2 linked regions of the Homo sapiens genome follow. The protein of the gene in region 2 purifies or fractionates together with the protein of the main gene of each other region. This does not show direct contact. Each region holds a gene or a part of one and is shown on either strand. Other genes may lie near its edges.

Region 1 (15,172 bases), on a different chromosome or scaffold from region 2:
CCATCCTTAACTTTGTGCTTCTTTTCCATTTCTACCCTTCTAGTTTGTTCATTTCTTCTATAAAAGTTTTACTTTGAGCTAGTCCCTGTGTTCAGATAGGCTGTGGAAGATGCTGAGAAGAAGGTGATATAGTTTCTGCTCCCTAGCAGTTCACAGATTGGTGAGGAAATAAGACATCCATACACTCAGCTACAACCTGTATGTAATACTACTTGTATTTAAATAGTAGTTACCACGTGCCAGGCTTTGTGTTGGGTACAGTTACACAGGGTATGTCTGAATGTCTTGAAAGTAACTCTTACCAACAAGGGATCATAGGTCCCAGTTTTACACTTAAGAAAACTGAGTCTCAGAGAAATGAAGTGACTTGTCCAAGAGGTACCAGCCAGCATAATTGGTGGTAGCCAGAGGAAGAGAAAGACCCTTAGGCTCTTATCTTGAGTTGTTCCTGGCCTGGCAGAGGAACGAAACTCCTTCCTGGAAGACAGTGAAAGATAAGCTCAGGACTCAGGGTGGCCAATGGCAAGGTCAGGATCAGGCTCCACTACAGCAAGGCTGAGGGAGGGGGTTAGAGGGACTTTCTGTCTGGAGCAGGCAAGGTGAGGAGACAGAGCCATCTCTTTCACCTGGTGACTCTGGACCTTCCTTCTTTCTGATGATGAAGTCCAAGCATCTGAATGGGGATGAGAGAAGTGGCAGTAATTACAGGCGGATCCCATGGGGCCGGAGGCCTGCACCACCGCGAGATGTGGCCATTTTACAAGAAAGGGTAAGAATCCAATGCTGTCCAGTCTCTTCTCTTCTTCACTTGCCCTCTTCTCTGCCTCCTTCCAAGTTTTCTGCAAGCATGTTAAGATCTCTCCATCTATTCCTCTCCTCCCAGGCTAATAAGTTGGTGAAATACCTGTTGGTTAAGGACCAGACAAAGATCCCCATCAAACGCTCAGGTAGTGTCCTACCAACCCTCCTCCTTGAGCTCTCCTCTCCACTCCCCTCTCCTCCCATAGTCTGGGAGTAACACTTTATGGCCTCTTTGTTCTGTCATATCTCCACACCTGCCCTCCTTGCACTCTGCCATGGCTGGCATCTCCCATTAACTCACTTCAGGTCTCTGATTGCACTGACCCAACAGGACTGGCAAAAGGGCTGCAGCTCTGTGGCCCCTGCTAAGCTCAGCTACTCTCACCTCTCCTTTTCTACAGACATGCTGAGGGATGTCATCCAAGAATATGATGAATATTTCCCAGAAATCATTGAACGAGCAAGCTACACTCTGGAGAAGGTGAAGGGGCAGTGCTGGCGGATGGGCGCAATGGGGAAGCTTTGAATCGAGCAAAGACATACATGTCCCTTTTGGAGAGAATCACAGAAACATGCTAATCCAGCCCCATTACTGTGTGAATGGGCAGACAGTGGCCTAGGGAGAGGTGTAGATTTGCCATGGGTCACACAGCATGTCAGTGATGAAAACATGGCTAGGACAGAAGCCACTCAAATTAGTCTCAGCTTCTATTCATAGTTGGACATATTCTGCATGTATTTCAGATCTCACCTCTCCCTTGTATCCCCATTTTCTGTCTCCCTAGATTCCTGCTCATCACAAAGATGATGTTGATGACAATAGTACATTTGCTGTGTGTTTACTGGGTGCCAGGCACTTGGCTATGTGCTTTATGTGCATTATCTCACTGACTTCTTACACATGCAGACCCCCTAAGTACACTGGGAGTTTTAGGATGCCCGGAAAGTTCACTGATACCTAAGCTGAATTTTGTGATCTCACAGGCTATTCTTTTACTTGGCAGATGTTTCGAGTCAATCTGAAAGAAATTGATAAGCAAAGTAGCTTGTATATTCTCATCAGCACTCAGGAATCCTCTGCAGGCATACTGGGAACGTAAGCTGGGAAAGGGCTGGAGTGGGAAGGAAGCTTCTGCTTTTATCTGTGCTGCTACCCCTTCTTTGTCCTACTTCCCCCATCCTCTTAGAGAGTCAGGAAAAACAGGGTCTCAAAAGCCCTGTCTCAGCACCTGCACATAGTTGGAGCCCTGCTCACAGTAGTGGCACCTGATTATGATTGACTGAAGGGTATAGGAGCCTAGGGTGGGACATTCCTGCTGTCAGGTTTGCTGTCTCTGTAGAAGCTTCCCAGGAAAGCAGGCCTGTCATTGCTTGCCTCTTCCGATGGAGTGCCTGGCCTGGCTTTGACAGAGTGGTTCTCAAGGAGGGCTTCCTGGTGTGGCTGGATCAGTATGCATGAAGCGCAAGAGTGTCAGTGGGGCTGAAGGTTCTGGGAGAGAAAGAAGGGACTCACATTGACTGAGTGCTTGTGTTGTACCAGGTTGACAGCCATTCTTCCATCTTCTTGGCAACCTGAGGAAGGGAGAATATGATTTTCCCATTTTACTGAATAATAGACCAAGGCTTGCAAGGTCTAAGTGCCTTGCCCAGGGTGGCATAGAGCTGGAAGCAGAGACTGGGCAGAATTCTGTATCTGAGGAATCTGGGAGAGGTTAGCCTGGTGAGCTGGCTGGTGTATCTTTTGCGGATGGCTGCTGAAACATAAACCTTCTTTCTGTCCTGTTGAAACATAAACCTTCTTTCTGTCCTGTTATTCCCTTAGGACCAAGGACACACCCAAGCTGGGTCTCCTCATGGTGATTCTGAGTGTCATTTTTATGAATGGCAACAAGGCCAGTGAGGGTGAGTGGCTGGGCATGCAGCTGAATGGGCGGCCATGGTCTGGATTCCATGTGTTCAATTTCTGTCCCTGTCTCCTCTTGCCTCCCCTCACAGCTGTCATCTGGGAGGTGCTGCGCAAGTTGGGGCTGCGCCCTGGGTATGACTGGGCTCTCTCAGCGCTTGCTGTCCGTGTTGTCCTTTGGCAAGAGAGGATGGTCCTAGGATTGCATCAGTCTGGTGGTCTGGTGGAGCGGGTGGGGTGCTGGACTGGGTAGAGGGCCCAGGGTTCTGACCTGGGTGGATGACGGGCAAATGGTCCTGAACTCTCTGCTGTCTCTCTCCTTAATGTCCTCTGTCTGTTCTAAGCTGAGATGTTAGATAGACCTTCAGGGATCCCTGACAAAGAGGCATCTGGTCTTAACTGCTTGCTTCTAGTGGCCATGTGCTCATTACTTTCTTCACTTCATTGAGACTGCCCCATGTGCTAGAGAGGTCTCTTCCATGTTGGGAAATGCCTCTGCCCTCATCTGGGCAGTTCTGATCTGTGTTCATGGGTTATTTTTCCCATTGTCAGGGTGAGGCATTCACTCTTTGGGGAAGTGAGGAAGCTCATCACAGACGAGTTTGTGAAGCAGAAGTAAGTGGTGTTTGGGGCTTTGTCTGGCCCTGAAGTGTTCTGGGTATACTGATCTGGTTCAGAAAGTGCTTAGTCAGTGCCTTTCTTATACTAGCTTTAGAGGGATGGGCATCCTGTGTCCTAGAACTGATACTGTCTAAAATTCCCATGGGCAGACCTTTCCAGGACTGGGCCAGACTCAACACAAGGCCCTTGCAGTGGGGTGCGCTCAGAGCAGAGGGCCTTAAGAATGGCTCCTCTGTTTACAACACACCCAACAGGAATCTGGGCTTACTCCTCACAGGTGGCATGATACTTTGGCCTTCCTGTGACATCATGCCCTATACATGTCTCCCCTGGAGAAGCCCAAGGGACTGCTTTGCACAGGGCCAGTGGGAAATGGCTCAGTATTGGAGGCCAAGACCATAAACTGTGTTTGGTAGTGAGTCTGGGGCTGGAGGGTCTTAGAAATCCCTCTCCAGGGGCTGTTTGTATTTGTTTGGAGGAGGTTGCCACCTGGTGTCTAGTGCTTAGACAGCAGGGTTGCTTGGTTAGAAACAAGTTTCATTTCCTTTTTCCAAGGTACCTGGAGTACAAGAGGGTCCCTAACAGCAGACCACCTGAATATGAGTTCTTCTGGGGCTTGCGCTCCTACCACGAGACTAGCAAGATGAAAGTCCTCAAGTTTGCATGCAGGGTAAGAGGAGAGCTGCCCGAGCTTGGCATATTAAGGCAATGGGATACCCTTGGCTGGGGCAGGCAATGCACAGGGATGGGCAGGTACAGAGCAGCCTGCAGCTCATATATAAACATGTGGAGCCTCCTTTATGTCCCAGGGTGCTGCTAGATATATAGTTTACATCATCTCATTCATTCTTCATACTTTGTATTAATCAGCATGGGCTGCCATAACAAAATACCATAGACTGGGTGGATTAAAAAACAAATTTATTTTCTCATAGTTCTTGAGGGCGAGAATCCTAGGTCAGGGTCCACGAGGGTCAGTTCCTGTTGAAGGCTCTCTTCCTGGCTTGCAGATGGCTGCCTTCTTGCTGTGTCCTCACATGGCTTTGTGTGTGAGAGAGAAGAGAGCAAGCTTTCTGGTGTCTCTTCTTATAAGGACACTAATCCTGTTGATCAGGACCCCACCCTTATGGCCTCATTTAACCTTAATTATCTCCATAAAGGCCCTATCTCCAAGTACAATCACACTGGGTGTTAGGGATTCAACATACGAATTTGGGGGCGGGCACAACCCTTCAGTTCATAACATATTTACGCTCTATCATTTCCTGTAATTATAAAGACACTTAGGCTAAGTGAGGTTAAGTAACTTGTCCAAGGTCATATAGCACGTAAGTCAGCAGAGCTGAAACTGGAGTTCAGAACTGACCCATGATAGAGCCCCAATAACTGAGAAGTTTAAAAAAGTATTGCTACTAGTTTAATACAAAGCCCGTAGGTTAATACATGATTACTAGGGTTGTTTTCTTATTATGATTATCATCCCCATTTCAGGTGCAGAAGAAAGACCCCAAGGACTGGGCTGTGCAGTACCGCGAGGCAGTGGAGATGGAAGTCCAAGCTGCAGCTGTGGCTGTGGCTGAGGCTGAAGCCAGGGCTGAGGCAAGAGCCCAAATGGGGATTGGAGAGGAAGCTGTGGCTGGGCCCTGGAATTGGGATGACATGGATATCGACTGCCTAACAAGGGAAGAGTTAGGCGATGATGCTCAGGCCTGGAGCAGATTTTCATTTGAAATTGAGGCCAGAGCCCAAGAAAATGCAGATGCCAGCACCAACGTCAACTTCAGCAGAGGAGCTAGTACCAGGGCTGGCTTCAGCGATGGTGCTAGTATTAGCTTCAATGGTGCACCCAGCTCCAGTGGTGGCTTCAGTGGTGGACCTGGCATTACCTTTGGTGTTGCACCCAGCACCAGTGCCAGCTTCAGCAATACAGCCAGCATTAGCTTTGGTGGTACACTGAGCACTAGCTCCAGCTTCAGCAGCGCAGCCAGCATTAGCTTTGGTTGTGCACACAGCACCAGCACTAGTTTCAGCAGTGAAGCCAGCATTAGCTTTGGTGGCATGCCTTGTACCAGTGCCAGCTTTAGTGGTGGAGTCAGCTCTAGTTTTAGTGGCCCACTCAGCACCAGTGCCACTTTCAGTGGTGGAGCCAGCTCTGGCTTTGGAGGCACACTCAGCACCACGGCTGGCTTTAGTGGTGTACTCAGCACTAGCACCAGCTTTGGCAGTGCACCCACAACGAGCACAGTCTTCAGTAGTGCGCTTAGCACCAGCACTGGCTTTGGAGGCATACTCAGCACCAGTGTCTGTTTTGGTGGCTCTCCCAGCTCCAGTGGTAGCTTTGGTGGTACACTCAGTACCAGTATCTGCTTCGGTGGCTCTCCCTGCACCAGCACTGGCTTTGGAGGCACACTTAGCACCAGTGTCTCCTTTGGTGGCTCTTCCAGCACCAGTGCCAATTTTGGTGGTACACTAAGTACCAGCATCTGCTTTGATGGCTCTCCCAGCACTGGTGCTGGCTTTGGTGGTGCTCTCAACACCAGTGCCAGCTTTGGCAGTGTGCTCAACACCAGTACTGGTTTTGGTGGTGCTATGAGCACCAGTGCTGACTTTGGCGGTACACTAAGCACCAGTGTCTGCTTTGGTGGCTCTCCTGGCACCAGTGTCAGCTTTGGCAGTGCACTCAACACCAATGCTGGTTATGGTGGTGCTGTCAGCACCAACACTGACTTTGGTGGTACACTAAGCACCAGCGTCTGTTTTGGTGGCTCTCCCAGCACCAGTGCTGGCTTTGGTGGTGCACTCAACACCAATGCCAGCTTTGGCTGTGCCGTCAGCACCAGTGCCAGCTTCAGTGGTGCTGTCAGCACCAGTGCTTGCTTCAGTGGTGCACCAATCACCAACCCTGGCTTTGGCGGTGCATTTAGCACCAGTGCTGGCTTCGGTGGGGCACTTAGTACCGCTGCTGACTTCGGTGGTACTCCCAGCAACAGCATTGGCTTTGGTGCTGCTCCCAGCACCAGTGTCAGCTTTGGTGGTGCTCATGGCACCAGCCTCTGTTTTGGTGGAGCTCCCAGCACCAGCCTCTGCTTTGGCAGTGCATCTAATACTAACCTATGCTTTGGTGGCCCTCCTAGCACCAGTGCCTGCTTTAGTGGTGCTACCAGCCCTAGTTTTTGTGATGGACCCAGCACCAGTACCGGTTTCAGCTTTGGCAATGGGTTAAGCACCAATGCTGGATTTGGTGGTGGACTGAACACCAGTGCTGGCTTTGGTGGTGGCCTAGGCACCAGTGCTGGCTTCAGTGGTGGCCTAAGCACAAGTTCTGGCTTTGATGGTGGGCTAGGTACCAGCGCTGGCTTCGGTGGAGGACCAGGCACCAGCACTGGTTTTGGTGGTGGACTGGGCACCAGTGCTGGCTTCAGTGGCGGACTGGGCACCAGTGCTGGCTTTGGTGGTGGACTGGTCACTAGTGATGGCTTTGGTGGTGGACTGGGCACCAATGCTAGTTTCGGCAGCACACTTGGCACCAGTGCTGGCTTTAGTGGTGGCCTCAGCACCAGCGATGGCTTTGGCAGTAGGCCTAATGCCAGCTTCGACAGAGGACTGAGTACCATCATTGGCTTTGGCAGTGGTTCCAACACCAGCACTGGCTTTACTGGCGAACCCAGCACCAGCACGGGCTTCAGTAGTGGACCCAGTTCTATTGTTGGCTTCAGCGGTGGACCAAGCACTGGTGTTGGCTTCTGCAGTGGACCAAGCACCAGTGGCTTCAGCGGTGGACCGAGCACAGGAGCTGGCTTCGGCGGTGGACCAAACACTGGTGCTGGCTTTGGTGGTGGACCGAGCACCAGTGCTGGCTTTGGCAGTGGAGCCGCCAGTCTTGGTGCCTGTGGCTTCTCGTATGGCTAGTGAGGTTTCAGGTAACTGCAATATTTCCATAGCCAGGACCCACAGGGATGGGTACAAGAGCTGGGAGATGTTGTAAGAAACACTAAGGCAGGACAGCAGGGTGGAAAGGTGAGGGCAATTAAGGAATTATGAGAAGACAGTGTATTTGGTGCTAAAATGTGTTCCTATTTGTTTTGTTTTCAGATTTATTCCCCATGTTTACAGATACCGCTAATAAATTGCAGTAGTCCTTCCCATGGAGCCAAAGTACATCCTTGGAATCTTTGTCCACACAGCAGTCAAGGCAGTTATGGCCAATCAGCTGAGGGTGTCATGTGATGGAAAAATCTGTTTGCTGTTCCTGCTTTATTGTTTGCTTTCTGTGTGCTGTCATATTTTGGTATCAGAGTTACATTAAATTTGCAAAATGAATTGGAGTTTTTTCTGTCTTTTAATGTGCTTAGGTAGTTGTGGAGTGGCATCTTGGGTTCGTAGAAGAGCTGGAGATCAGCATAGCTCTTTGGAGAATGTGGGTCTCCAGCTTTTGGCTCAAAGGCAAATATGATTTCAGCAGGATAGAGGCCTGGGGAAAGCATGGCAGGCAAGAGGATAACAGGTTGAGGAAAGATATGGAGAGGGAAAGCCTGGAGCAGAAGGCAAACGGAGAGGCTTCTGGACAGTAAGTACAGATTGATTTTGAATCACTGGTGTAAGAATGGAGGGAAGGGCAGAGGTCACTAGGGGTGGACATAAGAACAAGGGAGGGTTTAATTGGGATAGGAGAGGAAAACTTGGGCATATTGTATAGACTGTGGGGCAAAAGCTAACAGGAACAGGAGATAGATATGGAAGAGTCAGGAATTGACTGAAGTAGCCCATCCCTGAGAAGGTGGGATGGAATAGGGTACCAGAGAAGACAACCCTGACTTTGAACAGACTTAAGGGTGGCTGTGGATGCAGATAAATATAGATCTGCTTCAAGCAGGGATCAGCAACTTCTGTAGTAGACAACAACAACAACAAAAGGAGAGGTGGATTATACAAGGTTTAGGTCTTGCTGGGTGGTTGTGATGGAAGGACAAGGGAACAAAGGCAGCAAGTGTATGAGTCTGTCTCTTTACCACTGGGTCACTGGTACCTGGCTTATGGTAGCTGCCTGGAGAGTGGCTGAAGAGATGGCCCATAGTATCCAACATAGTTAGGGACAGAACACTAAGGATAGATTGGGGGACAATAGAGCATTCAAAGGACTCTGCTCTTGATGCTGTACAGCAACAAATATTGTTCATTCAAAAAATACTACAGGGCTGGGCACAGTGGCTCATGTCTGTAATCCCAGGACTTTGGGAGAGGCCAAGATGGGAGGATTGCTTGAGCCCAGGAGTTCAAGACCAGCCTGGATAACATAGTAAGACTTCGTCTCTACAGAATAATTGAAAATTAGCCGGGCATGGTGGTGTGCACCTGTGGTCCCAGCTCCTTGTGAGAGAGGCTGAGGTGGGAGGATTGCTTAAGCCCAGGAGTTTGAGGCTGCAGTGAGCTGAGATTGCACCACTGCACTTCAGCCTGGGTGACAGAGTGAGACCCTGTCTCAAAAAAAAAGAAGAAAATACTACATATATGCCTACTGTATGGAGGCACACTGCTAGGGATTCAGTGGATGACAGAGAGTTGTAAGGACTGGGGTAGTGGGTGGGCAGTGGTCAGACAGTTGGATGCTTACGTTTAAGAAGTCAGACCAGGGAGATGATACCAAAATCCATGGAGTAGGTGGTTGAAGGGGAGAAGATGATCACTGGAGTTGAGGGGGTCAGGGGACTGTGAGGCCAGAGTATTGGTTGGATCATTCACATAAACAGTGAAATCACTCAGGATGGCAGCAAGAGTTGGAGAAGAAAGGAGCACTTGGCTCAAGTGCCAGATTCTTCCCTGAGTATAAGGATGAAAGTGTCATGCCCACAGCCACCTTGCTGGAACAAGGCCCACAGGAACTCACAGGCACCTATCTTCTCCCCCATCTTTGGAGGTGCTACTGTAGAACTTTTCCCTCCAGGAAATCCTCACCCATTCCATGCCCTCACAGCAGCAGAGCTGGGTCAGGATTAGGGTCAGTACCTTGAGAACAACTGGAAAAGCCTCGCCATGACCTCCTCCTCTCCTCTTGTAGGCAGTAAGTCTTTATTCGTCAGAGAATAGGAATTAAGAAAGAAAGTTTCCTCCAGAGCTAGATAGCTCCTTGGTTGCGGCCAGCAAGCGAGGCTTGTTTGGGAGTTGCGGAGGACTTCTTCACTGGAAGTGGGGTGCCTCAGTGAGGCCAAGGCAGAGTAGGAGAAGAGCAAAGATAGCATTTCCTAAAGGTGGAAGGCGATGAGGACACAGGCAGTTTGACTTCTTGGAAAGGGCTCAGTAGTGGGCTGGGACAGTATCCAGGGCTTCCTCAGGTTCCCGGGTGATGTCCACATTCTGAGGAGAGAGCGCAGGATTAATAGGAAGGAGACAGCAGTGCAGGGCCCCAACCTCTCCCCTGCCTCTTGTCTTCATTGCCAGGCTCCCCTCTTTCAGCCAGGCCCGGATCCTGACCCTCAGGTAGGCCTGGGGGAATCTCAGCCTGAGGCCTTTTAGGCGGGAATTGCCCCAGCCTTGCATCTCCATGGTGCCTCGTGTCTGGGTTGTGGTTTCTGCATTTCTGGGTGCTGTTTGCTCCATCTGTTGGTGCAAAACACCCAGGCTTGGTGGGGTTGGGGCAGCCTTTCTGTGGATAAGGTGCTTTCACCATGTGCTGTGTCCACAGCCAGCTTGGGCCATGGAGTCCCCCACCTACCTCAGGCTTCTCCCGGTGTGTGTTCACGGCCTCCACATTCAGGTAGATGGATTCCACTTTGCAGCCTTAGAAAAGAACAATCCATCTGTCCATAGGCCCCCAAGGTAGGCACAGGTCTTCCCTGAGGTATCACCTCCCCTCCCCCATCACCAGCCACACCCCCAGCTTCATACTGTGTACAGATCATGACTCGCCTGTATGGAGGAGAATTTAGACAGCTATGTGATGTGTGGGGAAGACACCAGGCCTAAGAGGCAGCCAACAGGGTATCCTGTCACCTCTGCCCCTAACAGTCTTAGTTCGCTGAGCTTCAGGTGCTCATTTGTAAATGGGGATGGAGATGAGAGATGAACTCTGGCTGCCCACAGCTCTTGAGGTCCGCAGGACAGCAGTCTCATCTATGTAATATTGATGTAGCTCTGCGGATCCTCCAAGCCGTGTTAGGTGGTGAAGAGGTGGAAGAGTCCTGGGGCCACTGCCTTGGGCGATCAGTGCCAGGCAAAGTTTATCTGGAGGACAATGTGGTTGTGGCAACACCAGGAGTATGGAAGTTCACCTGGGAGTTTTAGGAAACCTGAAGACGGATGAGGGTGCATCATTGGGGCTTGGGGCTGACAGAGGGGGCCTAATGCCTGTGGAAGCTCCCTTAGCTTCATCCCTGTGGACTGCACCTTACTCCAGGCTTCAGTAGGTCATCTGCCCTGTTCGCACCCCAGAATAGATTTGATTCTGTCCCTCCCCTGTTCATGAACCTTTCATAGCTAATGTCCCAAGAAAGACCCTAAACTGCCCAGGCTGGTCTTTGTGCTCTTTCTCCAATACGGCCCTAACCTATAATTTTCCTCTGGTCCCCTTTGGGGAATCCCCCTTCCACAGCTTGGTGCTCTGTGCTGGGTGCTCTGGCAAAGACACAGAGTCAGAGCCAGCCCCAGATTTAGAAACCATCCTACTCTTTCCCTGTTATCCTACTACCATCAGTCCCACCCCCACCACCCACTAAGGGAACCTCCTGCAGGACACCCACCCAGGAAACCTCCTGCAGGACTCTTCTGGGCAAATGGTAGGCACTAGGGCCATGCTCATAGCCTCTATATGCCTGTCCTTTGATCAGGGTGGGAGTACTTACCATAAGCCACAGGAGTGAGTTTGAGCACTGTGTGCAGAGGGCACTTGAGATATGGAAGCTCATCTAGAAAGGAACAGGAAGCAGCCCTCAGAGGCAGGGTGCTGGCCAGGACACAGCCTCCCCAGGCCCCCAGGCTTGCTGGATGCTCCCCATTCCATGTCCCCTTGCCGTGGTGGGGCCTCACCAGGGGCCCACTCCCCACACCCTGCAGGGGCAGCACTGAGAGCACCTGGGAAGAGAGGAGGAGAGCAGGGAGGCAGGAATGCCTTGGAAAATGGTGGTAGACTGGACTGGGTGTCCTGCAGGAGGGTTGGGCCGGCCACCCTGGAGACGGCCACCACCTCACTCACAGGACAAATGAGACCCAGGCAGGCTTCTCTCCCGCCCCAAGCCTGGGGCCTTCAGCAGACCCCACACCACAAAGGCCCACAGTTCACGTCAGCAAGTGTTTTTTGAGACCCTGCTGTGGCAGTGGACAGCTCCCACAGCCTTCTCCCAGCCTGGCCCGCTCCCTCTGATCATCCCTGCCTCAGGCCTGGTGATGGACAAGCATTTGTGCATTCACTTGTTTCCAGTTATTGACATTATGCATAAAGTTGTTCTGAATATTCATATGCATTCTTGTCTGGGTCTATGTTTCCATTTCTCAGGCAAGCCCAAGAGGTGGGGACAGTAAGCCCATTTCATGGTCTCAGCCAACTGAGGCCTTGAGAGGGAAAATGCTCTCCGCAAGTCACACAGCCAGGAAGCAGCAGAGCAAGGCCTTGAACCTGGGACCCTGTGAGGCCAGAATGCATGCACTGGCCCCTACTGTCAACTGCCCCTGCCATCCAGGGGCTTGCAGTGTCCTGGGGGTGATAAACCCACCTGCTAGGCACTCTCTCCTGACACCCACTTTCCTGCCCACCTGCACATAACGCTACCCATTTCCCTTCATTTTGCAGGATCACCGACCCTCATGGCTTCCCTCAACAGCAGGTTCCACCCTAGGTTTCTGAGGTCTGCCACTGCCCTCCCAGCCTCCTGAGACATTAGGTTGGCTTTTTTCCTTCCTGGGCATCCATCCTGCTGCTCCTCCTTGTTTTTGTCATCATCAGGCCCTGGGCCAAGGGTGTTTTGCCCACTACCTCATGACACCCTTAAAGCTAGATTGAGGTACTACTGTACACCCTCCTTGTACACTTGAGGAAACAGACTCGGAGAAGGGAAGTGACTTGCCTGAGATCTCTGACCCAGCTCTGCCACTGCCTCCACTAATGACCTTGGCCCGGGCTCTTCTCTCTCTGGTCCTCAGTGTTCCCATTTCACAGGACAGGATTGGACTAGATGTACTCTGAGGGTGCCCCAGCCCTGATGTTCTGTGGGTCTGCATTCTCAGTCACATCATCTCTCTGGGCCTTGTTCCAGCATTCACCTAAGTAATGGGGTGGGTGGGGGGGTGAGAACATCTGTCCAGTGCTGCCCTGTCTGGCTCCCAGGACAGGTAGCCTGTGTGTAAAAAGCACTCCACACATGTCTGAGACGGGAAGTCCTCTGGCATGTACCTGGGATCAATGTCTATCCCTCACACTCTGAGCCCCATGACCTTGTGCCAGTCACTTCACCTTTCTGGGTCTCCCATTTCCTCATCTGGACAATGGGAGTTACAGCACCTGCCTCATGGTCTCAAAACATTGCCCTGAAAAGTAAAGATGTGAACAGAGAGAAATCTACCAGTGCAAGGACCCCCACCGCACATCCTATCACCTATTTCCAGTGAGGAAACTGAGGACCAGGCAGAGGAAATTCCTTATTTAATGTCAAGTTCTCAAGTGCCCTGGGTTCCAATTCTGGATGACTCCATATTACAGTGTTCTTTATTTTCAAACTAGCATCGTAGAAAAGATCCAAGACTGTAAAACAGTGTAGACATTGAATATAATTTTGCATTGCTCTGAGACACCTTAAAAATATCCTGGAAATGCTAACACATCAGCATCCACATTGGAAATGGAATCTCATGCCTGAAAGTGATATAACAGTTTTTTTTTTTTTGCCAGGCCAGCTGCCCCAGTTTGCAGTTCAGCCTATGCAGTCAGTGTGTAAATACTCTGTAAATGCAATGCCTACATATTTTTTTAAAAATAAATTATCATTTGAAAAACAATTTAAAATGAAAACATCACTATCTTGGGGAAATTACCCCTATAGCAAGGACAGAAACTTGTAATCAGGATCATGAAGCTATGAAAGGCCCTACTATCACCTGATGGTAGCATGCTTCACAGAAATACTAGCTCATCTTTTCCAGATTGAGGCAGACTGTTAACGTTGGCTTTGAAAATGTTAGCTAAGAATAATACTATACTAATAATAGCAGTTAATATATAGCCCACACAATGTGTCATGAACTGTTCTAAACTTTTTACTTATGTTATTTAAAATTCATCATTATTCTCCCCATTTTACAGATGAGGACACTGAGGCCAGAGAAGTTAAAGAAATTTGTGAAAGGCAGTACAGCTAGTATGTGAAAGAGAAAGAATCTGAACCTAGGCATCCTTGTTCTAGATACTCTTCTCTTAACTACTAAGATATAGATATCTAATTGTTGGTGTCAGTGTCTCAAATACCATCAAACATTCCCAAAGCAGAGATGAGGGTAGTACCTGAACTTTTATCCAGGAAATAGGCCAGGAGGCACCGCATGACAGCCTGGTGGCAGATCACCAGTACATTCTCCTGTCGTTCTAGCTCCATTATCACTGGCTCCAGACGCTGAACCAGATCCTCATAGGACTAAACGTAAGAGAGATACTTGAGTGAGAAAGGAAGATGAGGCACATTTGCCCAGAGGGGAAGAACTCTAAACTAGGAATCAAGAACATTTGGTTCCAGTGCCAGTTCAATTGTTGACCCACCAGTATGACCTTAGGCAACTCACTTCCTTCTTAGGGTCTTAGTTTCATTATCTGCTAAATGGGGGCTATCAATATAGTGGACCAAATAAATGTATCAATACAGTGGACTAAATAACAATAACAACAATACAACTCCCCACTGCAAATTGTCTTCTTAAATGCACTGCTGACCTTTCACAAAAATAAAGAAAATTTTATAAATATAGGGCCCCAAAATAGAGAAAAACGGAAAAAAACAAGTGATAAGTGGATGTAGCAGCCACAGCTGCCCTGCAGGCATTTGCCAATCATAGTAACTAAGAGTTTTGAGTTTTAAAAACCGTACGGAAGTAGAAGACAAGGCCTTGGGTGTGCACAAGGTGGGGAGTTAAGACTGAGACTCTCACATAAATCTGAGATGCTCAAAGGCCAAATCTTTACGCTCTAAGTGCAAACTAGAAAAAGTTCCTTAACAAGCAAAAAGAAACAACAAGAAAATGTGTCTGTCTCTCCTTGGCTCTCAGGGGAAATAAGTGAAAATCCTCCTGTATCAAATTCACACATAACAATATTAACCTTAAATGTAAATGGGCTAAATGCTCCAATTAAAAGATACAGACTGGCAAATTGGATAAAGAGTCAAGACCCATCAGTGTGCTGTATTCAGGAAACCCATCTCACATGCAGTGACACACATAGGCTCAAAATAAAGGGATGGAGGAAGATCTACCAAGCAAATGGAAAACAAAAAAAGGCAGGGGTTGCAATCCTAGTCTCTGATAAAACAGACTTTAAACCAACAAAGATCAAAAGAGACAAGGCCATTACATAATGGTAAAGGGATCAATTCAACAAGGAGAGCTAACTATCCTAAATATATATGCACCCAATACAGGAGCACCCAGATTCATAAAGCAAGTCCTGAGTGACCTACAAAGAGACTTAGACTCCCACACAATAATAATGAGAGACTTTAACACCCACTGTCAACATTAGACAGATCAATGAGACAGAAAGTTAACAAGGATATCCAGGAATTGAACTCAGCTCTGCACCAAGCGGACCTAATAGACATCTACAGAACTCTCCACCCCAAATCAATAGAATACACATTCTTCTCAGCACCACACCGC
Region 2 (15,172 bases):
GGTGTCTTAAATTAGATGATATGCAGTGTGATGTGAATATATAAAATATGTGATGTCAGTGAATATATGTGTATATATACATGCACGTGCATACATTGATTGGGAGCTGGCCTACTATTAGATAGATTTGAAATTGGTATTCACGAGTAGACTAGTTTCCTAAAGTGTATGGGATTATCATAGATCTGCTGTTGGACCCCTGTATGTTTTGCTGTGATTATCAGTGTTTTCCTTAGAGACCATTGGGGCAAAAGAGATAGGAGTGAAAGGAAAACTCAACTAGCACAATTTTAGCCTCTTATTTATTTTGATGTCCTTTCTTCAATGAATATTTATGGTAAATGTAATAACTCTTTTACAAGAATTTAAATGTGTGTTTTCATTTGAAGTCTTCCCCCATTTCCTTTCTTTACCTCTTAAGAACAGCATTCACGTGGCTACAACAGTAGGATTTTGTATGAGAGCCCATAGTTTTGTTGTCAGTATTAACGATCCCACTTTTTTTCCCTCAAGGAAATGCCTTCTGGTTCCTTTGCCACTATTGTTTAGACGTCTTATTTTGGATTTTTCTTCTAAAACTTTCCTGGAATGAAAAACTGTTGTGGTTGAAAAGATCTTTATTTTATCTGGTATATTTATCCCTTGTAAGTCCAACTAGAATTCCACATTTTAAATATTATTCTTATAGGGCATTTTACATTGAATAATGATGAATGTTTTTAGCCTTACATAAAAATATGTATTTGTACAGTTGTGCAGCTATTCAGTACAGGTTGCAGTTTCATAGAAATTCATTTCTAGTTTGGTTGTCAGGTGAGAATGTTGCTATAGCTTAGGTAGTACTACTTTCTTCACATCTTTATAAATGTGTTTTAGGTAACTACTGTCAAGCACAGGGTTGCAGAATATATTTAATATAGATTTTTTATATGGTGTTCTTATGATGTAAACTTATAGCTTTGTCTTGGAATATTTTATTCAGATACATTTTCAGAACCTCTTTTCTTGATCACCACTGTTATTTCTCTGATCTTTGGAAGACCAAATTCAAAGTATATAGAATCTTCAGTACATTAGACTATTTTGGAAGGTAGGGAATTCATTTCAGTAGCTGGTTATAAAGCTTAAGTTTTCTTGTTTTTATTTTCATTCTTTCCATATCCAGAAAAGAAATCAATAAAATTCAGTCTTTGTAGCAGCATAGAATTCCATCATTTGTAGTATTGATCCTAATTTTGATCAGTAGTTTATGAAGTTGGTTCTTGCTGTATTTCTGTATCCTGGGATACCACTTATAGAGGATTATGATGCATAAGTAGAACGTAATTTAAAAATAATATTGGAGAAGGAAAGTAGTGGTAAGGAGTGGTCCTCATCAGATCTGAGTTTGAGGTTTTGTTTGGTTTAATATAATCTTCTATTTTATATTTAACACACTTCACCAGAATTCTTTATTTTCATTTAATACTGATGCTCATGATTCTACAACTGCTTTTATAGTTCCGTTTGAGTTCAGCAGTATTCTGAGGTGCAAAGTCAGGTTTAGCTTTAAATCTTATTTAAAAAGTGTTAGGCTTTCATAAGCTTATGCAGTCTCACCTTGTATATTCCCAGCTATCAGTAATGTTTTTTCCTGGATTTTCTTCTCAGCAACCCGATAGCAGAAGGGTCAACTCTTCTGTTGGATTTTCTGTTTTGCAGCATACAAGCAATGACCCATATTGCTTTGTGGAATTTTATGAACACAGAGATGCAGCTGCTGCATTAGCTGCTATGAATGGGAGAAAAATTTTGGGAAAGGTAAGATAATAGGATGATGGCACCTTATGAGTACATATATTTGCATGTCAAACTAGTTTGTATTCTTTCTAGGCAAATTTTTGAGCAGATATTCGGCTGCTGAGTGATGGTTTTGCTTTATTCAGCTTAGTGCTTTTACAAAAATAACCCTGCTTGATAAATGATTTAATAAGTGGTAAGTGTTGTAACTCATGACATGCCTAATAATTTTATTAAATATAATCTTTATTTTTAGGAGGTCAAAGTAAACTGGGCAACCACACCAAGTAGCCAGAAAAAAGATACTTCCAGTAAGTACTCCTGCTGCATTTTACTGTGGAAGAGTTCTGAAATTATCCAGGAGGCATTACCAGCTTAAATAGGTTTTTTTTTCCTCCTCTAGAGTTGCCTTAAAAAGGTTTTAGTGGCTGACTTCTTAAGTATTTGATTACCAAATGCTCTGATTTCAGATCACTTCCATGTGTTTGTTGGGGATTTGAGTCCAGAAATTACAACAGAAGATATCAAATCAGCATTTGCCCCCTTTGGTAAAATATCGTAAGTATCATAATCAGTACTACACTCAGTCATGATAGGCAGAATTGTATATGATTAACTTGTAATTGAATTAAGATTTTCTTTCTCTAGTTAGTATGGTTTTGTTTTGTTTCTTATTTTTCATTTATTTATTTTGGTTTGTTTTGAGTAGTGGATGTTGTTGAAAATGTTAATGTCATTTCAGTGTCTTGGGGTCTCGTTTTCATCTAATCCTGTGTATAATATGTTAAAAAAAATTTAAGTGATTCTGTTTGTTATCTTTGAAGCAGATGTTTGAATGGTAAAACTTATAAAGTCTAGCTTTTTGTCATATGTTTTCAAAATTTGATGGTTTAGGATAATGAGTTAATCAAAAGTAAATGTGATCTATACTGTGTAAGAGTTCAATAACTTTTATAGGAGGAATTTATAAATGGGGGAGAGTAGGTAAATCCTTGGATATATTGTGATTAAATTGGAAATGTTCATGTTTTATTATGATAAATGTGTTTTTGATATTTTAGCTATAAGTGAAAAGTACTATTATACTATTAAAATGTTTCAATGTATGAGTCATAAATGTGGGATTAATTAGATGTTTTTGTTAGTGATATTTGATTCTACTAGTTAAGAGGCAAATGTGGTTTGATTTTTAACAAATTTATGCTCAGATTTTACTGTTGTTACTTGGTAAAAAATATATTGGAAAACTAAAAATGGTTATGAATTGTAGAAAATGTTTATCATAATTTATCTTTCTGATTAAAATCAGTTTATTTTGTATATTTCCTGTAGATTTAAATTAAACATCTTAGTACTACTTTACAGGAAAGTGTTTCAACTAAGAACAACAATATTTTCTCTATACAATTTGTTGTTCTATAGATTTAATTTCTTTAAAAGATGTAATTCTTAACTTTCTGTTTTGATATTTGCTTTGCTTTTTAATCTAAATGTGGTAAGTAGTACTATTTTAAAAATCAATATAAAAATAATACAGGTTGCTGTTTTTCAATCTTTATTTATACCTGAGACCTGCAGTTTTTCTTAAGTCCAAGTCACAATTAAAAGTAATAGCATTCTGGTTATTTTGCAGAATTGCTCATAAGAATGGACAGGATCTTGAAGGCTAACTGCAAGGAACTGTGCACACTGGAACTCAGTTGTAGATTTTTTTTCTCATTTCTATTTATTCTTATTATACATTATTTATATATACATATTTTAGTATTTACATTTTAACATTCTATATTCAGTGGAGTTCTATATTTCCAATCATTTAACTTACTCACTAAAATTTCTGTGTAAATTTGTTGTTTTCGTACTGGTGTGCTTAGCATTGTTGTTAGTTTTTTATTCTCCTTTCTTAAATTTCTGAAAATGTCAATTTTTCAAAATTTACAGCTGCCCAAACTCCAAAATGATGGTAGAGAATTGACCAAGAAAAATAAAGAAATCTGTTAACAGGCCATGTATGCCTTTTTAATTCCTATTTTTTCCTCTTTTTCAATTTTTTAATATTTCATATATTTTGTATCACTAGGCAGAAGACATTTAACTATTTAGAGATTGCATGGTAAAGTAGTTAGTATTGTTACAGTAATTTATAGAATCAGTAAACCTTAGAGGACACTAGTAAATAGAATATTAGAAAGGGAAACTGTTGTTCCTATTAATCTTCAAATTTGAGCATTTAGTTTAGAAAGCACAGGCTATTTGATTAGGTTGCATGTTTATTACATGTTTTTGTCCTACTGCTTTTTTCTAACAGGTAAAGAAGCATTAGGGAGAGTTCAGGAATGGTTGTAGTTAATTAGGGCTAACTGGAATTTTATTTTAAAAATGCTCACAATACAGTGTGTGTGGTTCCTTTTAGTTTTTATTTTGAGGGTGGCTCTTACTTCCCTCATTTAGCTGTGCTTCTTTTCACAGGGATGCCCGGGTAGTTAAAGACATGGCAACTGGAAAATCCAAAGGCTATGGTTTTGTATCTTTTTATAACAAACTGGTACGTTCTTCCATCTCAATTTATATTTTTTAATACTAAATTTAGTCATTAGTTACTTAATGTATTGAATCTGAAACTTGAATATACTTGAATGTTAACTACAAACACAACTTTTATGTAATGTTATGTATGTTTTAATAATAGAGTATAATTTCATTCCTCTTTCATAAACTCGAAAATAAATAGCTAGAAAAAGAATGATTATACTATAAGGAAGATTATTAAAATTGTGTTTGTACATTGGTAAAGGTCAGATGGATTTAGAAGTAAAGCCCAAGTCTAGGACAGATGAGCTAATCTGAGAATTTAGAGGTTAGGTAAATTATATTCAGTTTTAACCATGAAAATCTCAGTTTTAACTCTACCTTTTAAATTATTATTCATACTCTTATATAACTGGGATGTGAATGACTACAACAAATTATGTAAATAAAAATTTAAGCAATTCATCTTGATTTTTGCATATATTCTTTGTAAAAGGGGTACCAAAGTAAGCATTTGCATTAACTGTAACATTAAATAATAAAGTGGGCTTTGATTTTAAAGCAGTTTCAATAACTTAAATCAATGTTTTGTTTTGTTTTGTTTTGTTTTTTTGAGATAGAGTCTCGCTCTGTTGCCCAGGCTGGAGTCCAGTGGTGCCATCTCAGCCCACTGCAACCTCCACCTCCCGGGTTCAAGCGATCGCGCTGCCTCAGCCTCCTGAGTAGCTGGGATTACAAGCATGTGCCACCACACCCAGCTCATTTTTATATTTTTGGTAGAGACATGGTTTCACTTGGGTTCGCCAGGCTAGTCTCAAACTTCTGATCTCAAGTGATCCTCCTGCCTTGGCCTCCCAAAGTGCTGGGATTACAGGTCATCTACATTTTATTGAAGTGGTAAGATAAAGGGCCAGAGTATTCTGTTTTTGCTTAGATTGAATCTCAAGTTCAAATCGTTTTCTAATTGGTAATAGTTCAGTTTCGTTTTGTTTAGGATATTTAGTAAATTCATCTACTGATTTGTATGGAACCAGCAGCGCCGATATTTTATTTCATCTTACAGAGTCTTATTTATCACTCTTTTCTTTGTGATTGTGCTTTCTTTTTTATCCATAGGATGCAGAAAATGCGATTGTGCATATGGGCGGTCAGTGGTTGGGTGGTCGTCAAATCCGAACCAATTGGGCCACTCGTAAACCACCTGCACCTAAAAGTACACAAGAAAGTAAGATATGTCCACTGTGTGTGTTAAAATTATATTCTTCACAAAATCATGTATCATGTATTCATCTAGTCTCAATTTCTAATTTATTTATGTAAGAGACAGGGTCTTGCTCTGTTGCCCAGGCTGGAGTGCGGTGGCATGATCTTAGCTCACTGTAGCCTGAAACTCCTGGGTATAAGTGATCCTTTCACCTCAGCCTCCTGAGTAACTGAGACTACAGGGACATGCCACCATGCCCAGCTAATTTGTAATTTTTTTATAGAGACAGGGTCTGGTTACGTTGTCCAGGCTGACGTAGTATTTAATTAGTGTTGCAAGACTCTAATTATTTCATTTTATATTTCATTATCTGAAAATAATTGGGCTGTGGTATAAGTATTTTTGGAGCTGTGAATCACCTGATTTTATAGATCAAGTCTGTGTCAAATCATAGCATCAAGAAAAATTATGTTTTCTCCTCCCATTGAGGCATATCTTTTTTTTTTTTTTTTTTTTTTTTTTGAGGTGGAGTCTCGCTCTGTCACCCAGGCTGGAGTACAGTGGTGCGATCTCAGTTCACTGCAACCTCCGCCTCGCAGGTTCAAGCGATTCTCCTGCCTCAGCCTCCTGAGTGGCTGGAATTACAGGCGTGTGCCACCACACCCAGCCAATTTTTGTATTTTTAGTAGAGACAGGGTTTCACCGTGTTGGTCAGGCTGGTCTCGAACTCGTGACCTCGTGATCCACCTGCCTCAGCCTCCCAAAGTGCTGGGATTACAGGCGTGAGCCACCGTGCCCTGCCTTAATTTTTGTATTTTTAGTAGAGACAGGATTTCGTCATGTTGGCCAGGCTGGTCTCGAACTCCTGACCTCAGGTGATCTGCCCACCTCAGCCTCCCAAAGTGCTGGGTGCCCGGCCTGAGGCATATCTTAATAGTATATAGTAATTAACAGAAGAGTTTCATAGTACAATATAACAGTCAACGTTTTTGTTTTGTTTCTGCATACAGACAACACTAAGCAGTTGAGATTTGAAGATGTAGTAAACCAGTCAAGTCCAAAAAATTGTACTGTGTACTGTGGAGGAATTGCGTCTGGGTTAACAGGTACAATGTTTGGTTTTCTAATCACCTCTGAGGAGCTTCATCACTGTTCATATGAATTTCATGATACACATCAGCCATGTTTTATTTGTATGTTTTGTTTTATAGATCAGCTTATGAGACAGACATTCTCACCATTTGGACAAATTATGGAAATAAGAGTTTTCCCAGAAAAGGGCTATTCATTTGTCAGGTAACACTCTACTTGAAATATCATTATTACTCTTATATTTGATTCATTCCTTTCACTTATGTTCTCCAGGGTATCAGTGTTTGTTATTTTAGTGCTTCTTTGCAGTATAGAAGTTTAAGCTACCTACCTAATGTACTTTAGAAAAAAAATACCAACTTGCAGGTGTAAACTGATGAGTTTCCATGTTATTTATTGTGTTAGGTTCTTAAAAAATAAAAGACAAAACCATATCATTTTTCTTTCTTAGATTTTCAACCCATGAAAGTGCAGCCCATGCCATTGTTTCGGTGAACGGTACTACGATTGAAGGACATGTGGTTAAATGCTATTGGGGTAAAGAATCTCCTGATATGACTAAAAACTTCCAACAGGTAATTCGATTTTTCATAGCATTCTTTAAGGTTTCCATCTTACATGTCACATAAAAGCTTTGGAAACTCTGTAAAATGAACAATAAAATAAAGCATATAGCTACTTTCAGTTGATTGTATTTCAAAATTGATTATTTGCGGTATTAACTGAATCTTAATACTTTCTTTTCACAGGTGTCACCACCCCAATAAACTTAGACAATGATAAATAACAGAGTCCTATTCACATAAGGGTGCTTACTTAGTTTTTCTCTTCCTTGTCTCCCACTCTTTCTTCATATACGGTGTTTCTTATGTGTTCCCTAAAACAATACTTTGCTTTTTCCTAGGTTGACTATAGTCAATGGGGCCAATGGAGCCAAGTGTATGGAAACCCACAACAGTATGGACAGTATATGGCAAATGGGTGGCAAGTACCGCCTTATGGAGTATACGGGCAACCATGGAATCAACAAGGATTTGGAGTAGAGTAAGTTGTTTGGGTTTTTCCAGTATAGAAACGTATGGTTCTGACAAAATAAATAAAAGTGTGTTTTCCTAGGGAGAATCTATTTTAATTATATACATTGAGCTATTTGGCATTATGAGCATTATAGAAACTAATCTAACAAAATATGATTTATGAGGCTAAGAAATTACTTCTCATTACCTAGGTGGAAAGGGGGGATTGGGGTAACATTTAGTGTGTCCTATGATCCCTGTAAGCAGTTGGTAGAATTTGATTTACATTTCTGATACACTTTTATTTATTTTTGCATGTAAAAGATCTTTGTCCAGATATATTCAAAAGTTTGATGGTTTTATGCCTATGTGGTATGTGTGAGAAATCTGAGGTTTGTGTGATACAAAGTAACTGGCCTTTTTTTTTTTTTTTTTTCTTTTGTTGATAGAGTGGTTTCCTCCTTTGTAATTCCCCTGCCCAGGGCCAGCCCATAGCTTTATTTTCAGATTTCTTCCTTTGAGACTGTTTCCAACATGAACTTGTTTTTAAAATTTCTTATGTAATAGATGATGTGTTGAATCATTCACAATTTTTAAAAAATTAGTTTGCAGATACTCCTCAGACATCAGTGTGTTAAGTTGTGGTTATCTTAAAAATATCAAAGACTAATACTGGAATATGTATTCTACACATATATCATTTATTTCTTTGATCTTTCTATTTGTTGTAGGTGTGTTGATTTCTGGTTTTCTATTCTGTGATTAGGCTCTGCTTGATTTTTGTGTAAATACATATGTGATTTTTTTTTTCTTGTGTTTGCTGAAGATTTTTTCTTTTTCTTCCAAGTCAATCACCTTCTGCTGCTTGGATGGGTGGATTTGGTGCTCAGCCTCCCCAAGGACAAGCTCCTCCCCCTGTAATACCTCCTCCTAACCAAGCCGGATATGGTATGGCAAGTTACCAAACACAGTGAGCCGGGACTCTAAAAAAAAATTGTAATTCATGATAGGCTTCGATTTCCTGTGACACTCTGAAGACATGAAAGTAGACATCGGAAAATGAAAATATTTATTTTAAAAATTGAAATGTTTGGAACCTTTAGCACAGATTTGCTTTGGTGAAGGACACGTGTCTTCTAGTTCTGCCTTTTTAAGTTTTTGTTCATGATGGATATGAACATGATTTTTCTTTATGTACAAAAACTAAAATAAAGTCAATAAAGACAATTCTGACTACAAATTTTGATATAATAGGAAAAATGGCTAATACATTTTGATTCTTAGATACTATTCCATTTTTATCTTGCTGTTCAGTATTTTAACTCACTGTGTTTTTAAAAGAGCAAAAAAGGGAGGATCGTGAAAACCTGGGAATCACATATAAGTTCATCCTGAATCCTGATACTCCCCTCCCCTTCCCTGAGGTGGACCACATTTGAAGTCAGCAGAGAAAAAGTGTGATATTCAGAAGAAATGCGTGATTTTGGAGTCGCTTTGGAGGAAATATTTTCTTTCTCTATGCCTAAAGAAACTGAAGCCAGACTGAAGTTTTGCACCCTAAAAAAGGAACAGCATTGTTTGAGTTACTTGAGCAAATGTTGGTGGTCCACGTTAAGACATATTTTTAAAACTTCCAAAAGTGTCGATTATTAAAATTGTAGTATTTTACATTTCATTTTGGGGGGAAATCCAAGTATGGTGTTTGTATTGAAGTCAGACAGTCATACTTGTGCTTTTACATGAAGTTTAAATGATACATATTGTAAATATTCAATAACTACAGTGTTTAAAAAGCATGCTTCAACATAGAAGTAGCAGCAATGTAATTATTTGAAGTAACACTTAACACACTCCGCTGCATTGAATGCAGTGGATTGATCAGAATGTTAAGACTGACATTTCCAAGGTTGGCTACTATGTAAAATTAAAATTACACAAATTGTGCAGAAAAAGCCTTAATTTTAATTTCATACAATCTTTGATGCATTAGTATGTTCTAAAATGTCATTGGGAATTAGTTTTTTGTTTTTGTTTTTTTTTTTTTTTTTTTTTGCTTTACATTACTTGGTATGTAAATACCTTGATTAAAACCTTGTAAACCAATTTCAAGGTTACTATAAGTTGTATAGTACAAGTGTTTTTTAAAAATCTTGGGGTGTTTTTAAAAATTAAGATATATTTTGCCCAAGAATTTTTTTAACAAGATTGCTAAAAACATCTTATTTAGACACTTCAATGTACCAATTTATAATTGGATATTCAGTTTAAATAGTACACAGAGTTGTGGCTTTTATTTTCAATTAATTTTTTTCCTTGTGGGCAGTGTGCATGGTATAATAAGCCTGAGCAGAGGCTTAAGTTGTATGTGTGCAGAGTTTGTAAAGGAATCAATTGGAAGATGCAGAAGACCGAGGTTTGCTTTCAAGGTATTTTTCAGGCTGTGTGGGTAAAATTTGCCTCAAATTTCTATCAAACAGGAATGTAAAATAGATAAAATCCTATGTATTTGAATTGTCAGAGCTAGGGAGTGCAAATGTTTTGGCAATGTATTCAAAATGCTGGCCTGGGCACCAAAGAGAAAATAGCCTTTTACAGTTACATAGTAAGATGCGATTAGTACCCACAAATTACTGTTTTCTAAACATTTGAAGTTTTACGATTAGCTTTAAAATAATGATTTTATAAATTGGTGGTCACAATAATTTTGGTATTACTTTCCTCCTTTTCCCACTTAGCAATATAGCCAAATGTATTCAACATAAAAATTCATAGGGTCTGAAATTCATAGCTGGGCCAAATTTTTTATGGCACCTTAGTTTTACCATAATGGTCATCTATTACACTCTTCTGTTATAAAATATACCCTTATTTCTTTTGTTTATAGTATCTTTGAGGAATGTTTTTGGAAAAGTTAATTTATATTTTATAGGGAGAACACTCAATAAATTATGTTAACTGTGCCCCCGAGTTAAAAATTTTATGAGTATATGTGAAACTTGAACAACTGAAGACTTTTTTTAATTGATAAAAATGCTTAGTATGCCTGTTTTGGTCTGCCAGTAAATTAAGTAGCTTATTGAGATAACTAACAGCTAAATATAGCTGTAGTGTTTCCTGACTGTATATTCTATGATTTAATAAAATTATCCAGACTAGTTATATTGCCACAGTAAACATGTGACTGAAGTGTCCTTCATCTTAATCTGAAAGAGGGCAAAATTTCATGATCAGTTAATGGAAGTTATTTCATATTAAGTGGTTTTTTTTTTTTTTTTTTTTTAGATGGAGTCTTGCTCTGTCGCCAGGCTGGAGTACATGTAGTGATGAGAACTTGGCTCACCGCAACCTCTGCTTCCCAGATTCAAGCGATTCTCCTGCCTCAGCCTCCTGAGTAGCTGGGATTACAGTCACGTGCCACCATGCCCAGCTAATTTTTTTGTGTTTTTAGTAGAGATGGGGGTTTCACCATGTTGGCCAGGATGGTCTCGATCTCCTCACCTCGTGATCCGCCCGCCTCAGTCTCCCAAAGTGCTGGGACTACAAGCGTGAGCCACGGTGTCTGGCTTTTTTTTTTTTTTTTTTTTGAGACGGAGTCTTGCCCTGTCGCCAGGCTGGAGTGCAGTGGTGCAATCTCGGCTCACCGCAACCTCCGCCTCCTGGGTTCAAGCTATTCTCCTGCCTCAGCCTCCCGAGTAGCTGGACTACAGATGCATGCCACCATGTCTAGTAAATTTTTGTATTTTTAGTAGAGACAGGGTTTCACCATGTTGGCCAGGATGGTCTCAATCTCCTGACCTCGTGATCCACCCACCTCGGCCTCCCAAGGTGCTGGGATTACAGGCGTGAGCCACTGCACCTGGCCATTAAGTGGTTTTTAAAATACAAAGCTACTTATCCAAATGAAATGTACCATTTAAAAACTACAACTGGGCCGGGCGCAGTGGCTCAGCCTGACCAACATGATGAAACCCTGTCTCCACTAAAAATACAAAATTAAGCGTGGTGGCCCGTGCCTGTAGTCTCAACTACTCAGGAGGCTGAGGCAGGAGAATCTCTTGAACCCAGGAGGCGGAGGTTGCCCTGAGCCAAGATTGTGCTATTGCACTCCACCCTGGGAAATAGAGCAAGACTCCGTCTCAAAAAAAAAAAAAGTGCAACTGTTGCCGGGCATGGTGGTTCACACCTGTAATCCCAGCACTTTGGGAAGCTGAGGCGGGTAGTGGATCACCTAAGGTCAGGAGTTTGAGACCAGCCCAGCCAACATGGTGAAACCCCATCTCTACTAAAAATAACAAAAAAATTAGCTGGGCGTGCTGGTGGGCGCTGGTAGTCCCAGTGACTTGGGAGGCTGAGGCAGGAGAATTGAACCTGGGAGGTGGAGGTTGCAGTGAGCTGAAAATGCGCCACTGCACTCCAGCCTGGGCGACAGAGCGAGACTCCATCTCAAAAAATAAATGAATTAATTAAAAGTATGGCTGTTGAGCTAACAGATGATTTTATAACATGACCCAATGCTATCTTGATCCAACTTAAGCCTAAGAATCGTTGCTCCCCACCCCGTTCATCAAAAACATCAGCAGAGACTTTTTGGGCATGCAAGGAAATGTTTTTTATTTCATAATTATTTTGAGATTTATTTTGGTGATGTGTTTCTGACTGACTGCCATATTCTTTGTTCTCATAATTTCTCTACTAGTATTTTCACTCCCAACCCCCGTGCCATTCCCACTTGATTTTTATGTCTGCTGGCAGTGAGAGGCTAAAATGGCCAACTTAAGCCAAAGCTGTAAACAACAGTTGAAGTAAGTCTTTCAATAAAGACTAGACTATATGATAAGTGGCTTTTTCTTATTGTCGTTTATTACATAATTATTCTACCAGGTTGCCATGAAATAAGCAACTGGGTTTTAAGTTTTCAGTAGTTATGTGGAGTATGTATGTAGTCAGGACCTATTTCCATGTTCTGTGTAAGTGTTAACAAGTCCATTAGCTTTGCTGAATTTAATCTCTGGATATGAAGGAGTAGAAATTTGCATCCTTCTAAAAATGCATGCTCTGTTTAATATTAATATATTAAAATTTATTAATTTGGAGTCCTCAGATACGGGAACTAATTTTACTGTCTAGGTTGCTCTTTGGTAGTATCTATGAGTAAAGATGATACTTGACAAAAATAATTTAATAAATGTTTTAGATACTTTACTAGTATGTCCAAATTAAATTTTCCCTATTAAAAGCATTTGAGCTTCTACTTAATACATTATAAACATTGACTTTGCAATTTTATTACGTATTGGAAAGATGCAAAACCTATTTCCTTTAGACTTTTACTAGTTTTTGTAAGCCTTCACTCTTAAGTGGTCCAAATGAGGGTTTTGCTTAAATGTGTATTCTACTATGTTTAGTAATTAAATATTCTCGTAATTGGCCAGGCACAGTGGCTCACACCTGTAATCCCAGCACTTTGGGAGGCTGGGGTGGGCAGATCACTTGAGGCCGGGAGTTCGATACCAGCCTGGCCAACATGGCAAAACCCCATCTCTACTAAAAATACACAAATTAGCCAGATGTGGTGGCGTGTGTCTGTGATCCCAGTTACTCAGGAGGCTAAGGCAGGAGAATCACTTGAAGCTGGGAGGTGGAGTTTGCAGTGTGCTGAGATTGTGTCACTACAATCCAGCCTGGGCAGCAGAGCAAGACTCTGTCTGAAAAATTAAAATATTCTAGTAATTATGTTTAAATAGGTTGCTGTAAATTAGATTGCCATCAATTCCATTTTCAAACAAGGAAATTATGTGAATATAACTTAAACTTTTTTTTTTTTTTTTGAGACAGAGTTTCGCTCTTGTTCCCCAGGCTGGAGTGCAATGGCACAATCTCAGCTCACTGCAACCTCCGCCTCCCGGGTTCAAGCGATTCTTCTGTCTCAGCCTCCTGAGTAGCTGGGATTACAGGCACCCGCCACTACGCCTGGCTAATTTTTGGTATTTTTAGTAGAAACGGGGTTTCACCATCTTGGCCAGGCTGGTCTTAAACTCCTGACCTCAGGTGATCCACCCGCCTCGGCCTCCCATAGTGCGGGGATTACAGGCGTGAGCCACCTTGCCCAGCCAACTTAAACATTTTATTGTTCCAGCTGGGCATGGTGTGACTCACGCCCGTGACCCCAGCACTTTGGGAGGTTGAGATGGGAGAATCACTTGAGCCCAAGAGTTTGAAGCTACAGTGAGCCATGATTGTGCCACTCCAGCCTGGCTGACAGAGTGTGAATCTCTGTCTCTAAAATACAATAAAAAAAAATTTAAATGCAATATTAGTATGAAACCTGGGCTCCTATTTTCTACTTACTGATTTTATTTTGAAAGATAGTGTAGAAAGGCCAGGTACTATAATTCATAAGCTACTTTGTGCAAATATTTCTTTTATGGGCAAAGATGACTTTTAGTTTTGGAATTGCCTAAATGTGGAAGAAATTTAATTTATATCTGGGAAATAGGGGTAGATGAAATCTATATAATTTGTTGTTTTTATTTTAAGGGGGATAAAAGGCACTGATAGCAATTGACTTTTTAATAGAATTAAGCTTTTGTGGCCGGGCGTGGTGGCTCACGCCTGTAATCCCAGCACTTTGAGAGGCCAAGGCGGGCGGATCACAAGGTCAGGAGATCGAGACCATCCTGCCTAACACGGTAAAACCCCATCTCTACTAAAAATACAAAAAATTAGCCAGGCGTGGTGGCAGGCGCCTGTAGTCCCAGCTACTCGGGAGGCTGAAGCAGGAGAATCCCTTGAACCGGGAGGCGGAGCTTGCAGTGAGCTGAGATCATGCCACTGCATTCCAGCCTGGGCAACAGAGCGAGACTCTGTCTCAAAAAAAAAAAAAAAAAAAGAATTAAGCTTTTGTTTGGGGGAAGAGAGAGACATGATCTACATAACTTTGATGGCTTGGTTTTTAAACAAGAATATCAGAGTAACAGCGGACAAAAGAAGTATGTTCAATAAATTATTTCCTTAACTTTCCAACTCAAAATACATATGCCGAATTTTGTCTGTTCCAATTTATTGCACTTTAAAGAATTCACTAACCATTGTTTCTCTGAGATGTTCCTCTGGGAGTGATCCACATCTAATAACGTCTTGGAGTCAGCTTGGAAAGTTTGCAAACATGAATCAAACTGAAGTGCTTTTGGATAGCGTTTGAGGAAAGCCAGGGCGACTGTATGCTGGAAAGGAATCTCAGGAGTGAGCTGTCCAGTTGTTGATCTTCCAGCGAGGCTTAGCTTGCCCGTGGGTCTCCTCTTTTCACTTTCCTTCCTTCTTGGGAACTGACAAGAGTTTTGCAAAAAGCCTGGTTGTCATGGTGCTATAGAATTACAGCATTGTTAAGGTAAACCAGATTTTGCTGTATAAAATCAGCAGATACCATAACTTGCCCAAGTGTAATTTTTTTTCCTGGTCCTTTATCTTTCTTCCTTACGTTTTGGTATACCAGCAAAGAGAAGTCTGAAACCATCTAGACAAAATAAAGCATGAAATACGTAGCCATATGCAA

What was found.
Region 1: the proteins of TIAL1 (region 2) and TRO purify together in Homo sapiens (affinity purification with mass spectrometry; 2 studies listed by BioGRID and IntAct, with this or other methods). This does not show direct contact.

The regions. Positions count from the first base shown.
Region 1 is NC_000023.11:54,923,787-54,938,958, forward strand, and holds the end of TRO (trophinin), read left to right. Parts: intron 1-664; coding exon 665-769; intron 770-883; coding exon 884-947; intron 948-1,202; coding exon 1,203-1,282; intron 1,283-1,805; coding exon 1,806-1,897; intron 1,898-2,623; coding exon 2,624-2,703; intron 2,704-2,796; coding exon 2,797-2,839; intron 2,840-3,256; coding exon 3,257-3,319; intron 3,320-3,518; exon of another isoform or gene 3,519-3,649; intron 3,650-3,880; coding exon 3,881-3,995; intron 3,996-4,816; coding exon 4,817-7,234; 3' UTR 7,235-7,245; intron 7,246-7,417; coding exon of another isoform or gene 7,418-7,552; 3' UTR 7,553-7,645; downstream 7,646-15,172. Other genes in the region: PFKFB1 (6-phosphofructo-2-kinase/fructose-2,6-bisphosphatase 1), read right to left, coding at 9,617-9,676, 10,035-10,099, 11,161-11,223, 13,809-13,938. UniProt on the Homo sapiens protein: Could be involved with bystin and tastin in a cell adhesion molecule complex that mediates an initial attachment of the blastocyst to uterine epithelial cells at the time of the embryo implantation. Directly responsible for homophilic cell adhesion.
Region 2 is NC_000010.11:119,569,087-119,584,258, reverse strand, and holds the end of TIAL1 (nucleolysin TIAR), read left to right. Parts: intron 1-1,650; coding exon of another isoform or gene 1,651-1,701; coding exon 1,702-1,800; intron 1,801-2,035; coding exon 2,036-2,090; intron 2,091-2,249; coding exon 2,250-2,337; intron 2,338-3,412; exon of another isoform or gene 3,413-3,786; coding exon of another isoform or gene 3,787-3,788; intron 3,789-4,248; coding exon 4,249-4,324; intron 4,325-5,424; coding exon 5,425-5,533; intron 5,534-6,522; coding exon 6,523-6,618; intron 6,619-6,723; coding exon 6,724-6,808; intron 6,809-7,055; coding exon 7,056-7,179; exon of another isoform or gene 7,180-7,353; coding exon of another isoform or gene 7,354-7,371; exon of another isoform or gene 7,372-7,508; coding exon 7,509-7,648; intron 7,649-8,446; coding exon of another isoform or gene 8,447-8,467; coding exon 8,468-8,594; 3' UTR 8,595-10,794; downstream 10,795-15,172. UniProt on the Homo sapiens protein: RNA-binding protein involved in alternative pre-RNA splicing and in cytoplasmic stress granules formation. Shows a preference for uridine-rich RNAs.